Linked DNA regions of Homo sapiens: region 1 is linked to region 2. The links come from fine-mapping of genetic effects on gene expression. Tissue or cell type: gastroesophageal junction. Region 2 holds a variant in brackets; the other region holds the start of a gene. All regions are shown on one strand. Distances are from middle to middle.

Region 1 (6,402 bases), 130 kb after region 2:
GGGTCAGCCAGCAGGGAGCAGGCAGGTCTGTGATGCAAGCAGAGAAGGTGGGATTGTGCCCACTGGGGAAGGGGGCTCTTGCTCTACCAAAGAGGAGGCTGGATGCCATGGTGCAGAATCCTCTGGGGTCTTGGCTCCTACTTGTCAACCACTAATTAATTTTTAGGTTTACAATTGATGTTTTCTTATCCAAGGACATCTGGTATACAAAAGTTCCCCTAGCTTAAAATGTTTAGTATTCTCTGAATAGCTTTCCTCTGTTCCCTAAGAAAGAGGCTTCCTCAGCAGCTGTGCTGCAAAAGACCCCAAATGTATTGCACATCCGAAGAGTGGCTAAGTGGGAGGTGAAGGGTGGGTACAGGGGTCTGTTGTAGGCACTGTCCTCCTCTGGGCTCCTTTGACATTGGCCTGGTGGCTGGGATACTTCAGAATAAAGGCCTAGTGGGTCACAGGTTTAGGAGGAGTTGGGGCTGGTCCCTAGGCCACTATAGGTGGTGGGCAAACATTGTAGAAGGCCTAATGTTTAGAAAGCCAGTGTGGAATTCTCCTTTGTGCAACTGCGTCACTGAATCAATTGGGATTTTTTATTGGTGAATGGACACTTGGAAGTTTTAATATGCAAAACATAATTTACTTTTATTACTTAAATTGCTTAATGTAATTTTAATATGCAAGACTTAATTTACGAAGAGCCAGGATTCCGGGTGTTTAAATCCTTGTCTCCAGGGAACACAGCTGTCCCTTTGAGGAAAACCTAATTTCTCTTCCCTGCCTGTGTGACTTTGGGACAAATCTGGGACAACAGTGAATTCTCTATTACTGTTATTACCACCCAAGTAAACTAAAAATCCGGGATGAGAAAAATCTTACAGAAAATTCTAGCTGAGGCTTCTAGCTTATAGTACAATGAATAGACCTTAATCATAGAATGCCTTTAAGAAAAACATTTAGGCCCGACTTGGTGGTTCACACCTGTCCTGTAATCCCACCACTTTGGGAGGCCGAGGCGGACAGATCTCTTGACCTCAGGAGTTTGAGACCAGCCTGGGCAACAAGGTGAGATCCTGTCTCTACAAAAAATACAAAAATTAGCCTGGTGTGGTGGTGCCCGCCTGTAGTCCCAGCTACTCGGGAGGCTGAAGCGGATGGATCGCTTGAGCCCGGGAGGTGGAGGCTGCATTGAGCTGAGATTGCGCCACTGCACTCCAGCCTGGGTGACACAGCGAGACCCTGTCTCCAAGTAAACAAAATAAAATAAAATAAAGAAAAATATTCAAAAAGCCCTCGAGGTTTTTTTGTTTGTTTGTTTGATTTTTTTGATACGGAGTCTTACTCTGTTGTCCAAGGTGGGGTGCAGTGGCACAATCTCGGCTCACGGCAACCTCTGCCTCCTGGGCTCAAGCGATCCTACCGCCTTAGCCTCCCCAGGCATGCGCCACCACACCCGGCTGAATTTTTCTTTTTTCTTTTCTTTTTTTTTTTTTTTTGAGACGGACTTTCACTCTTGTTGCCCAGGCTGGAGTGCAATTGTGCAATCTCGGCTCACCACAACCTCTGCCTCCCGGGTTCAAGCAATTCTCCTGCCTCAGCCTCCCGAGTAGCTGGGATTACAGGCATGCTCCACCATGCCCGGCTAATTTTGTATTTTTAGTACAGACAGGGTTTCTCCATGTTGATCAGGCTGGTCTCGAACTCCCGACCTCAGGTGATCCGCCCACCTCGGCCTCCCAATTCTTTTTCTTTCTTTCTTTCTTTCTTTTTTTTTTTTTTTTTTTTTTTTTTTATTTTGTATTTTTTATGGAGATGGGGTTTCGCCATGTTGCCCAGGCTGGTCTCGAACTTCTGGGCTTAAGCGGTCCGCCCGCCTCGGCCTCCCAAAGTCTGGGATAACAGGCTTGGGCCACCGCGCCCGGCCGAAGCCTGAACTGTTTATCAGTTCAATTATTTTTGCGGAATTGAACCGAACCGAATGGAATGGGAGCTTGCAGAGAGCTTCTACTCAAAGCAGTTCCTAAGGTTGATGGGGTGGAAGGAAATAAACAGAACAGCTATTGGCGTGGCCGAGTCGCTACGGACGGGGAACCCGAGCCGCTCGCGCAGGCGCAGAGCCAGGCCCGCGAGGGGATGGGAAGGTGGGGGGGAGGGGCGTTCCCTGGGCCCTGCCCCTCCCTGCCCTGCTTTAGTTCCAGGTACCGCCACTGGGGGCGGCCGCGGCCTCCCCAGCGGCAACGGCCACGAAGCTGCGCGGCCCTGGTTTCCAGCCGGGCCCTTTTCGCGGCCGGGCCCCAGCATGGCTGCCCCCACGGCTGAGGGCCTGGCAGCTGCTGCGCCCTCGCTTTCTTGACATTCCCTGGCTTCTGTGCTCTCTTCCCCAGGCCACCCCAGCAGACATGTTTGCCAAGGCCTTTCGGGTCAAGTCCAACACGGCCATCAAGGGGTCGGACAGGTGAGGGAGGAAAGGGGCCTGCTCTGCCACGGAACAACCAGACACCTCTTGGGCCCCGCTGGCCCATAGCCCTCGCTATTCTTGGCCGACATCCTCGGGTGGAGGCCGAGGGGTATGCCAGGGAAGGGACCCCAGGAGGCAAGGGTGGGTTAGACACATTTTGAGGTGAGGATGGAGGGGGACCTGGCTCTCTTTTGGATAGTCTAGTGAGTTTAAAAGAAAACGTAGTTAAGTCAGAGTTTACTGACTGCAGACTATTTAAGGTGTTGTGGAGAATGCAGAAGTGAAGGAATACAGAATTCTTGCCCTCCAAAGAGCTTAATGCCCCTTGGGAGAGATCGGATGGGATACCAAGAATTAAAAGTATAAGAGAAAAAAATGACTAGTGATTAATTCTGGCAGGAGAGACAGCTGGAAACTGAGGTGGGAGGGAATAAGGCACATGTGGTAAGAAGAACTGTATCTGTTCAGACAGGGTCACAAATGGAGATTGTGTTTGGAATTTTGTAACCAGTGCTTTATAGTTGTCTATAGGTCTCATGGCATAGTTATTTAATCATAAACTGGCATATTTGCGAAGCATGTATGAGAAAGGAGTGGGCCCAAGGGCTAGGCATGAAGTCAGGAAGGCAGGGCTGTTTCCTGTGTCAGGCTAACTTGGATTGTTCACTGGGCCTGTTTTCCCACCCATAAAATGGGAAGGCATACCCCAGGAATGAGTGAAAATAGATGACAATGGATGAAAAAGAGTTTAGGATGTTTCAGAAGAGTGTGTGTGAGACTAGGACATCATAAACCAGGCAATCTTTCTTTGGCCCTTGTGATTTTATAGTGAGCACTTTTGAGTTCGTTCTTGATATTTATTAAAAGTCTGTCCAGGCAGCATTCACAGTGCTGGTGTGCTTTCCACAGGAGAAAGCTTCGAGCTGATGTGACAACTGCTTTCCCCACCCTTGGAACTGATCAAGTCTCTGAGTTAGTACCTGGAAAGGAGGAGCTCAACATTGTGAAGTTGTATGCTCACAAAGGGGATGCAGTGACTGTGTACGTGAGTGGTGGTAACCCCATCCTCTTTGAACTGGAGAAAAATCTGTATCCAACAGGTATGACAACAGGACGAAGATGGCCATTACCATTAGGTAGTTCTTGCCTAACATCTGCTTCTCTCTGTTTCTTCCATTGTCTCCCATAAAATAAGCAAGCACGAAATCTCCCAATACCATCCCCAAGGATCTTTATGGACCTGGTGTTCCTAGAATTGGGTCTTTCAATTCTAGGATGCAAAAGGTTTTCTCTTATGCAAAACCACTATAGGAGGGATTAAAAAAAGGGCTGACATAGTAAGTAAGGGTGGTTGCAAAGGGAAGTTCTGAGATGAAGGAACAGTGGCTGAGAAGTTTACAGTGGGTTGACTAGGAATAGAGCAGAGGTCTTGAAAAGGATGGAATTTCAGGGCATGTCTTCATGAGACAGAGTCTTGCTCTGTTGCCCAGGCTGGAGTGCAGTGGCGCAATCTCAGCTCACTGCAAGCTCCGCCTCCTGGGTTCACACCATTCTCTTGCCTCAGCCTCCCGAGTAGCAGGAACTACAGGCACCCGCCACCACACCTTGCTAATTTTTTGCATTTTTTAGTAGAGACGGGATTTCACCATGTTAGCCAGGATGATCTTGATCTCCTGACCTCATGATCCGCCCGCCTCGGCCTCCCAAAGTGCTGGAATTACAGACGTGAGCCACCGCGCCTGGCCAAAAATATATATATTTTTTAGAGACAAGGTCTTACTCTGTCACCCAGGCTGAAGTGCAGTGGTGTGATCGTAGCTAACTGTAACCTCAACCTCCTGTGCTTAAGGGATCCTCCCACCTCAGCCTCCTGTGTAGCTGGGACTACAGGCATATGCCACCATGTCTGGCTACGTTTAAAATTTTTGGTAGAGACAAGGTCTCACTATGTTGCTCGGGCTGGTCTTGAACTCTTGAGCTCAAGTGATTTTCCTGCCTCAGTCTCCCGAAGTGTTGGGATTACAGGCATGAGCAGGGTGCCCAGCCTAAAAAATGTTTCTTAAAACTATCTGTAGCAGGATTTTCCTAAAATACTGAAAAGATATACTGTGATAGGAATAAAGCTGGATTGATAAGCTACATATCCAGCTGTTTTCATGGTGTACTTTAACCATAGGTCTCACAGGGATTTTTTAGGCTATGAGTGGCTCTCTAGGATTCTTTGCCTTCTCTGTCACAAATCTCAGGGACTCAGTCTCCTTTTCTCTTTTCCATAGCTGCTGACACCTACTTTGTAACTTGGGGCTTTTCATCCTCCAGGGTTGTCTGCAATAGTGCAATGCAATATCCTTAGGCCACTCCTGCCCCTGATCTCACTTCCTTGCTGTACCTGAAGACAACCACAATGCTTTTTGACCTAGGGGTTTTTGCTGCTAATCACTATGGAAACAGAGGGGATAAAAATGATAAACATGGGAAAGTTTCCAAATTTTATACAGCTGGCTTCCTGTTCTTAGGCTACTTGCTTCTGAAGCCGTAAATAAAAGCTTCATTGGTTCTCTGCCCTCACTTTTTTGTCCACTGTGACCATTTTCTGCTGCTGCAATCCGGATGCCTCCAAATCTCAAGTGACACTCAGTTTCTTAGGTTTTTTCCTTCCTCAAAAATGAAACCTCTCTGGGCATCCCCTTACAACCTTCTCTTTAGCTTTGAGTTGAGTTTCTTTCCTGTATTCTAATTAAAGTGACCATAGTGTTAGGTTTTTCCATTTCTCTAGAAGATTGGCTTTTTGGTAGTAGTGTTTTCTGGATCTCTTTTTGTACAGTGTACACGCTGTGGTCCTATCCTGATCTTCTGCCAACCTTTACAACATGGCCTCTGGTGCTCGAGAAACTGGTAGGGGGAGCAGGTAAGAGGATTCTCCTATATTCTGGCTATTGGCTGAAACCTACTTAGCAAAAGCCAACTGATGTAATAAACTTACCCATTTCCTGTGTTTTTGTGGTTGAAAAATGGAATTTTTTCCCCTATGTGTTTTATGTTTCTCACTTGGCTGGTTCCACACAAGATCTCTGGGCCCCTCTGGCCCTGTTGTAAGGCTTAAATAAGTGTTGTGAAAGTATTTTATGAACCACCATGTGCTATACTGTAAATCAATAAGCTGAATTTAGGAAACTAGGACAAGACAGATCATGTTATAGGCTACTCAAACTTTTTTTATTTTTTTTTTTTTGAGATGGAGTCTCACTCTGTTGCTCAGGCTGGAGTGCAGTGGCATGATCTCGGCTCACTACAACCTCTGCCTCCCAGGTTCAAGTGATTCTCCTGCCTCAGCCTCCCGAGTAACTGGGATTACAGGTGTGCATCACCACGCCTGGCTAATTTTTGTATTTTTAGTAGAGACAGGGTTTCATCATGTTGGCCAGGCTGGTCTCGAACTTCTGACCTCAAGTCAACTGCCCGCCTTGGCCTCCCAGAGTGCTGGGATTACAGGCGTGAGCCACCGCACCTGGCTAAGAGTAGCTCTTTTATGCCAGAAGAATGTTAGGAGCTGAGTCTGGAGTGGAAGTCAAGGTTCCCACTTCTGGCTTAGAAACCACCATTTGAATAAAAATAAATGTCCTGCTATTGGATGGGTGAAGGGGTCATAAAAAGCGTAAGCCACAGGCATAAGGCACTGCGCCCGGCCAGGACACTCAAACTCTGTTTGACCTTTAGCCCCCTAAGGGGAGAAGGTCTGATACTGAAGTTGCCATTTTTCATTTTTATTATGAATAACATAGTTGATAACTAATAACTATTTTTTTGTTGGAAGTTGCCATTTTTCATTTTTATTATGAAAAACATAGTTGATACCTAGTAACTATTTTTTTGTTGAGCGAGTGAGGAAATGATGAAGTAAAACGCAGAGTGAGATGGAGGCTGAATGCAGGTTGTGATTTTTTTTGTTCATT
Region 2 (7,881 bases):
TTACTATCCGGGTTTCAGCTCCACTTGGCTCCACTGAGTGAGGGCTTTTGGTATGTATCCTCCTCTCCCTACATTCTCATTGTTATTTTCCTATTTCCTTGATTTTGTGCCACACAGAATACAATCACGCAAGCTTCCATTTGGGGAAAGTGGCATAAAATAAAATGCTAAATACAAACACATAGTAAAGTAAAAAAAAAAAAAAAACAGAAATTTGTTTAAATGATGCCACTGTTGTGTCTAGACAGAGACTGAGTCATTTAAATGTCTTCTCAGAGCATCTTATTTTTCTTTTCTTCTTTTTTTTTTAGGGCACTGCCACCCAGGCTGGAGTGCAGTGGTGGTTATCATAGCTTACTGCAGCCTTGAACTCCTGGTCTCAAGCAATCCTCCTGCTCTGCTTCCTAAAGCACTGAGATTACAGAAATGAGCCATTGCACCTGGCCTCCAGGCATCTTTTAACTCTCAGCTTTATCCATCCACTCATCCTATATTTACTGAGCATCATCTATGTGTTGGGCTTCATGACAAGTGCCAGGATGTGCATCCATGGGTTCAACCCTACTCCAAGGGCAAGCTGTCTGCTGCTTGCCCCTTCCAAGCTACACAAGCCTGTGGGCAATTTGTCTGCAGCAGCCCATACTTAGCCTGCTGGGACTGTGGGGTAAGGAATGAGATGGGCTGGAATGGTTAGTGCGGTTACCGCCACAGGACCCACTGAGGGCAGAACAAGAGGAAATGGGCAGAAAGAGCAGGAGGTATCTGGGTTTGACAGAGTGAATCCTTCCCTCTATTAGGGCAGGAGGAGCTGTCTCAGCTGATGGGGGAGCTAAAGAAATGGAAGTGCCAACTAACCTCCTCTAGGAGGGCTTCCCTGGATCTCACAGACTTCTGGGGACATGCTCCTGGTCCCACCCAGCACGTGCTGCTGTCGTTACCACAGCCCTTAGCACTGACTCATACAGCGCCTTGTGTTGTTCTCCACGAAACTGTCAAGTCAGGGAGGTTCATCTTCATTCTCTGCAAAGAGTACTGGATGCCAGCAATTTCCCACCAACCTTCAATAAGTAGCTGAGAGCTGCTATATGCCAGGCACTGGGATGTGTCCATGGATAAAACAGACACAAATCCCTGCCCTTGTGGAGGTTACATGCTAGCCATTATAAACAAGTTATACAGATTTTTAGAAGGTGATCAGATCTATGGGGGAAAATTAAGTAGGATAACTGTGTGTATGTACACAGTAATTCAATAAAAACGATTTTTTAAAATAGAGCCATGAAGGGTTACAGAGAATGCCCAGAGTGAGGAGTCAAAGGTGGGAGGAAAAATTGCAGTTCTAAATCAGACAATAAGGGTAGGTGTCATTGAAAAAGTGACACGTGGCCAGGGGGCAGTGGCTCACATCTGTAATTCCAGCACTTTGGGAGGCTAAAGCGGGTGGGTAACTTGAGGTCAGGAGTTCGAGATCAGCCTGGCCAACATGGTGAAACTCCGTCTCGACTAAAAAATACAAATAGTAGCCGGGCCTGGTGGCGGGTGCCTGTAATCCCAGCTACATGGGAGGCTGAGGCATAAGAGTCACTTGAACCCAGGAGGCGGAGATTGCAGTGAGCCAAGGTCGCACCACTGCACTCCAGCCTGGGAGACAGAGCGAGACTCCCTCTAAAAAAAAAAAAAAAAAGAAGAAAGAAAAGGAAAGAAAGAAAGGAAGGAAGGAAGGAAGGAAGGAAGGAAGGAAGGAAGGAAGGAAGGAAGGAAGGAGGAAAGAGAAAGAAAGAAAGAAAGAAAGAAAGAAAGAAAGAAAGAAAGAAAGAAAGAAGGAAGGAAGGAAGGAAGGAAGGAAGGAAGGAAGGAAGGAAGGAAGGAAAGAAAGAGAAAGAAAGAAAGAAAGAAAGAAAGAAAGAAAGAAAGAAAGAAAGAAAGAAAGAAAGAAAGAAAGAAAGAAAAGAAAGAGAAAAGTGACATGTGAACAAAACTCAAAATGAGTTGTGCTGGTAACTGAGGAATGTTCCACCGCAAGGACCTGGAGGATGGAAAGAGTGGCTTCTGCCCCACCCGTCCAGCTCTGCAGCTCCGCGAACTTTGCAGGTCCCTAAGCTGTGGCTTGGCCTTGAGCCTCTCTGAGCTTCAAATGCTTTCGCTGCTTCCCTTTTGCCTTTGGGTGGTGTCCCAAGGAGGCGATAAACCACTGTTGAACCTCAGGGTCCTGTACTACAAAGGATTGTTTCCTAGGTACTTAATCAAGCTGAGCCTCAGTTTACAAATCTATAAAATGGGGATAATTATTTCACTTCCTTATGGAGTCGTTGGAGATCAAAAATCCAAAAGAAAAGAAAGACTCACAAGGGGGAACTGGCAGTCTCTGAACTGAGCTGAGAGGCTCTTCATAGGGCTTTAATTTAGGAACTGGGCTAAAGGTTAATACTGATTCGCTATCTCATTCTCACAACAGCGCTATAACAAAGATGCTCTTAAATCACTGTTTTTACTAATTGGGGAATTGACGCATACAAACACTGAGGGCTCTGAGCTGCTGGGTGCTAGAGCAAGACCATGAATCCAGATCTGTAGGAATCTAGGGTTGCAGCCTACACACCACACAACCTCTTTTGAATCTCTCAAGCCAAATTTTCTTTGGTGGTGTGAGCAGGAAGAGCCAGGTTCTAAAACCTAAACTAGACACCGCTCTTCTCACATTTCCTCCCAATCAGCCCTAATCTCTGTGGCCTCCTTTGCTGGGATACAACCCAGCGGTTTTCTCTGCTGCATTCTTAAAAGAGAACGATACCCCCCAAAGCCGAGGACCTGATTAATTTGGGCGACTGTGGGAGGGAGAGAAGGGGAGGCATTCTTAGAACTGGGGCCTAGGCTGGGGATGGCGGGCTCCACTTTCGGCACATTCTAGAGACCATGGGCATGGGGGTTTTGAGAGAAACCTGTGACTCACCTCGCCTCTCATGGTCTGTTTCACTCGGAGGCTCACTGTCTTCCCATCATCCTCCCTCAGCCCCCACCGCCAACACTACCCGGCTGCCAGCACCCCTCAGTGACCCACCCACCTACTCCTGCTACCTCCCAGCAAGCCTACAGCTCAGCAGGGCAGGGGCTCCTCTCTGCGGGGCTAAAGAGCTACAAATCCACTGAGTCTGAACGTCCCTGCAGCAGACCCCTGTAGCAGCCTCCCTTCTCAGCAAAAGCCACACGGCGTTAATCACCTTTATCCCAAAAAGAGGAGTCCGGGGCCAGCCTAGGGAGTTAAGAGTAACAACTGCCACTCTTATATAAAGGGCACATGTGAGGGGATAGAGAACTCGGGAGATAGAGCAGGGAAGGGGCAGGAAAGCAGGTTTCTTGACTTCTAAATGCAGTCTCCTAAGTTAAATTAACCTGCTCACACTGGTACAATGATGGCTACAGTACCCACTGTATAATGCATGAGAATATATGATAATAATGAGTGCTAACTATGTGCCAGGCTGAGGCTTTTCCATAATCGTTTATATAACTATGCTAAGTCTTTCATATGATTTTTTTACCTGATTTTTCATTTAGTCCTCACCACCTTCTAAGGTTGGTGATAATATTGTAGTCTAGATTTTCCAAGAAGCAGATGCCAAAACAGGATTACACATACAAGGGTTCAGTTAGGGGAAATTTCTTTATGAGAGAAAATAGGGAGTGTGAAGCGAGGCTGGGGAACCACCGGTGTGTGACCCCACTAAGGAAAGAGGGAGAGGAGGATGTGCACAAGGGCCCCAGGCACAAGTGTCTATGAAGTTGCCAGGGGCAAAGCTGGCCATCCTTCGAGTCCTGGTTCTCCCAGGAACGGGTGCGTCTTCACATCCCTGTTGTACTGTCATTGACTGGGAGCACGAGAAAGGAAGTGTGGCCTCCACACAAATGAGACAATGAATTTCAGAGTGCCATAGCTGGGGCCCTTGGACAAATAAGCTCCCCATAATAGGAGGTCTCTGGGGCACATGTTCATGGGTGCCTCAATAATAATTCCCATTTTACCGGTTGACAAGCTGAGGCTCAGAGAGGACAAGTCATCTGCTCATAGTTGGGACCCAGCTTAGAGTAACTCCAAAGATTTATCTTTGTGCCATATGCAACTGAGCTACTGACCACCACATCCCAAGCCATCCCCAAGACTGATGCCTCAGATTCGGTACCCAGCAGAGGGCTGGGCACACAATCAGTGTCACATTGGGAGGCAATGTGGCTGAGCTCCTGTCTAGTGAGCTCCTGTATAGTGGGTCCTGCATGTGTCCTGTGTGCCCCACAACACCTACAACCCGGAGTCAAAGCCGCCTCCTCCTCCCTGCTATTCCTAACCAGAGGCGTGCCTCCTCTGTAACTTCCCACAGCACTCTGGGCCTCTCTTACAGCACCCACCAGAGTCAGCCTTATGTCACTTATGTTATGTGCACACTTGTCATCCCCCACAGGCATTTGCATGCCAGTCAGAGAAGCAGGTAGCCCGGTCAAGATCAAACACCAGGAGGCCAA[A/T]CAAGGCTGAACCTCAGATTTTTGTCTTTGAGCCATTCTGCCTACATGCCCAAAATGTATGCAAATAACCATAATTGAGTGAGCAGGGCCACTGATATGGGGAGATGTTGAAGGAATCCCCTAAACCCCTCTACAGCTGACTTTTCCACTCGCCCACAATGTGGCCAAGGGTCTACATCTATCAGTTTTGGGAAGTGCTATAAATGCCCTTTTACTCTCGGCTGACTGACTCTACCCCCAGATTTGCTGCTGACAGCAAACCCTTTCGTAAAGCTCTCACTTGGAAAGCAATATGCAAAGTGCATTCATTCATAAATCGATACTGTCTTTTTGGCAGTCCCTATCAAAAACTAAAATGTGTATACCCTTAGATCTTGCCATTCCACTACTAGGGATCTATACTACAGAAATCCTTACACACACACTCGAAGATACTGTACAAGATATTTGTGAGATCTATATAAATAGTAGAAAAAGGGGGGGAGGGTAGTCCTTCAGTGCAAATGAGGTTAAAAGACAAATAAAAAAGAAAGGAGGTGAGAAATATCCATCCACAGCAGATAAATTGTGGTACATCATACTATAAAATACTCTGCAACTATTTAGAAAAAGAATGATAGTTCTATGAGTTTGATCATGGAAATTCACAAGATATGCTAAGTGAAAAAAGCAAGCTGTATGTTGTTTCATGGGTATGAAAAAGTCTGTCAGTTGCACAACAATGTGAACATACTAGTGAAGTTTACAGTTAAAAATGTTTAAGATGGTAAATTTTCAGTTAAGTGTATTTTATCACAATTTTTTAAAAGCAGGTTGCAGAACAATATGCCTAATGATTCCATTTGTACTTGTTATAACTGCCAAAGAAACTTCTCAGTTGTGCTTATAAGTATATTTGTATCTAGATAAATTTTCAGAAACTTTTTGGATAAAAATTTCAAAAAAAATAAAGCTGTTCAATGAAGTTTTTTCTGGAGAGGGAATTGGCATCACTGAGGTGGAGACGTTATAAAGAGAAAGGTTCACGCCTCACTCTGTATGTCTATATATGTACATATAATGTCTTGTTTGAGTTACTAAAATTACTTGTGTTAATTTTCCTTTAGATGCTTTCATCCATCCAACAGATACTAAGCACCTACCCTGAGTCAGCTGTCATTTTCAGAGCCTGAAATAAGCCGATCAGACTGAATTTCTCGTCTACCCTTTCTCTTCCTTGCACACTGGCTCAAAGAATGCCTGGCTGTCATCCTTCCCCTCCTGCCCTCGACCCTCCTGTGGGTGGGTAGGGCTAGAGTCTCACTATGAGGACCATTTCCTTAGAATAGGTTTGTGACCAGAAAAGGAGACAGCTGAGTGCCAGAAAACCAAAGGCCCCTCTAGGTCTTACTACAAATACCAGGTCTCTCTGCACCACAGACTCCAGCTAACCAAGGTCTCTGTCTTAGACTTAGATGAGATCGTGGTTTCTTTCAAAAGTAAACCTTTGACTGGTGAATTCAGAACCACATGTCTCCAGATCAGAAGGTAAGGGCTAGGAGAACTCAGCTCATTCTGAAACTTGAGGCCTTATTACCCCAAGAGGCAGTAGCTGTTTGAGGAACAAGAGACCCACAGCTGCCTGGACAGAGGAAGGAGCAAGATCACGTTTCACACACTCGGACAGCAGTAGTCAGAGCTAGTAACTGCCCGGGGCTAGGACCAGAGCCACCCAGACAGGATGCTCATTTGCATAACTTGTACAGATACTTTGCATATCAGGGTCCTGGAAACACTACTACCCTAGGATCAGAGAGGTTGAGACTAGTATTTGGTCACACAGGACCTCAGAGACAAAACCAAAACCAAGGGGTGGGGGAGGACTTAGGAAGGGAGGACTCATGAAGGGGGAAAGTGGAAAGTCAGTCCTGGTATTTCACTTGCAAATCCTGGCAGGGGTGTGGGATGGCAGTAGGAAACTTTACTGTCCCTGAGAGCAAGAAAGTTATGCAAACAAATGCATTTGCATGGCAGCCCTGGTCCCTAAAAATGACTTATCAAACACAGGTTCCACCACCTTGGCAGCCCCACCTGAAATCCTGCAGGCTTGACAGCCAAAAGACTTCCTGGCCAGAGGCTCTGGGCAGTAACTTACCTTCCAAGCAATTATGACTCCCTCTAGAGGAGACAAGTAAATTCCAAGGTAATTCTGGGTTCCAGATGGTGGTGTGTTAAAAATGGAAAGGGTGGACGCCAAGTATATTGACATTTTTGTGTGTGAGTGCCAGGGAGGCTCCCAAGGGCTCCACTTTTAAACTGAGTGGAGTAAGAACCATGAGGACAAAGGGATGAGAAAGGCCTTTTAGTGGCAGAGGGAAGAGGGGCAAGGAAGCCCCTAACAATTGCTCATCCTGCTCTTCCAGGAGGGCTCTCAATTTCATGTAATGTCATCATTTTCCATGATGATTCAGAAAGTGCCTAACTACAAAAGATCTAAGTTTAAGGTGTACCACTGTAACACTTTTTAAAAAATTAATGAATTGAGTGAAACGTGGCAAAAGCCCCATCAGCCCACATCCCCAAATTTTGTTTTTCAGGGAGCAAACATCATTTATGAGGCAAATCCAAGTTGGAGGGGCTGGAAAGGGAAAATGGACAGAAAACACCAAGGGCACCCCACAGAGAGGAGTAAATCAGATTTCCATGAGCAGAACCCATGAGGGGTCAAAGGTCAAGCTAACGAGATGAGCAGACAGACAGCAGTTCAGACCACAAGACAGGAGGGGTGAACCTGTTGGAGAAGGAAGGATCTAGCTCTTGCAGAGAGAAGTGAGAGCAGAAATGCAATGGGGAAATCTCCATCATGCTATTCCATTTTCTGCCATCAAAACTGTCAGTCAGGTGCCAGCTTGAAGGGCTGCTAGGAAGCTCTCCTGGGTCTCTAACAGAATAGCTCCACCTTATGCACTCCAACCACCTCTGCTCCTGTTCTGGAGAGCATCAGTTCTTCTGTTACAGCGATGCCCGCCACTTCTCTATGCTGAGCTCCACAAAGGCTAGACCCACTTCTGGACTCATCTGTGTGTCTCCGAAGTCCTAAGCACTGGGCATGACACAGAGGAGGTGCTCAAGATGAGCTGAATGTTGAAAATGTGACATTTTTACTCTTGGATAGTGGCTGAAGGTCTTCTTTTTAAAGAGCAGCCTAGGCTGAAAAGGCCAAGGCACTGACCTGTCTGAATGGTGGCCCAGAGCCCAGGGGGCAGTCCTATCTTTCCACACGAGTTGCACTTCCCCCACCTTTCCAAGTCTTGGCACAGCCTCATTTAATCTTCACATGCCTGGGTGGGGGAGGACTGAAATCCTCCCCAACAAGGCATAGATGTG

Evidence for each region. PIP is the estimated chance that this variant, and not a neighbour inherited with it, causes the effect.
Region 1: EIF2D starts here. The variant in region 2 is fine-mapped to the expression of EIF2D in gastroesophageal junction (GTEx, PIP 0.99).

What each region holds. Positions count from the first base shown.
Region 1 is chr1:206,608,331-206,614,732 of GRCh38, reverse strand. It overlaps EIF2D (eukaryotic translation initiation factor 2D), which reads left to right and starts at 2,268. Exons shown (of 15, transcript NM_006893.3): 1 at 2,268-2,446; 2 at 3,359-3,549; 3 at 5,274-5,357. The coding sequence starts at 2,391. RefSeq lists a silencer at 2,006-2,215 and enhancers at 2,506-2,575, 4,986-5,045, 5,086-5,185.
Region 2 is chr1:206,737,939-206,745,819 of GRCh38, reverse strand. No RefSeq gene overlaps it. Among named protein-coding and RNA genes, the nearest start is that of IL19, 29 kb to the left of the region's middle. RefSeq lists enhancers at 603-702, 4,144-4,253, 4,344-4,393 and silencers at 6,160-6,269, 6,300-6,349. The variant A/T (reference allele first, on the strand shown) is at 4,516.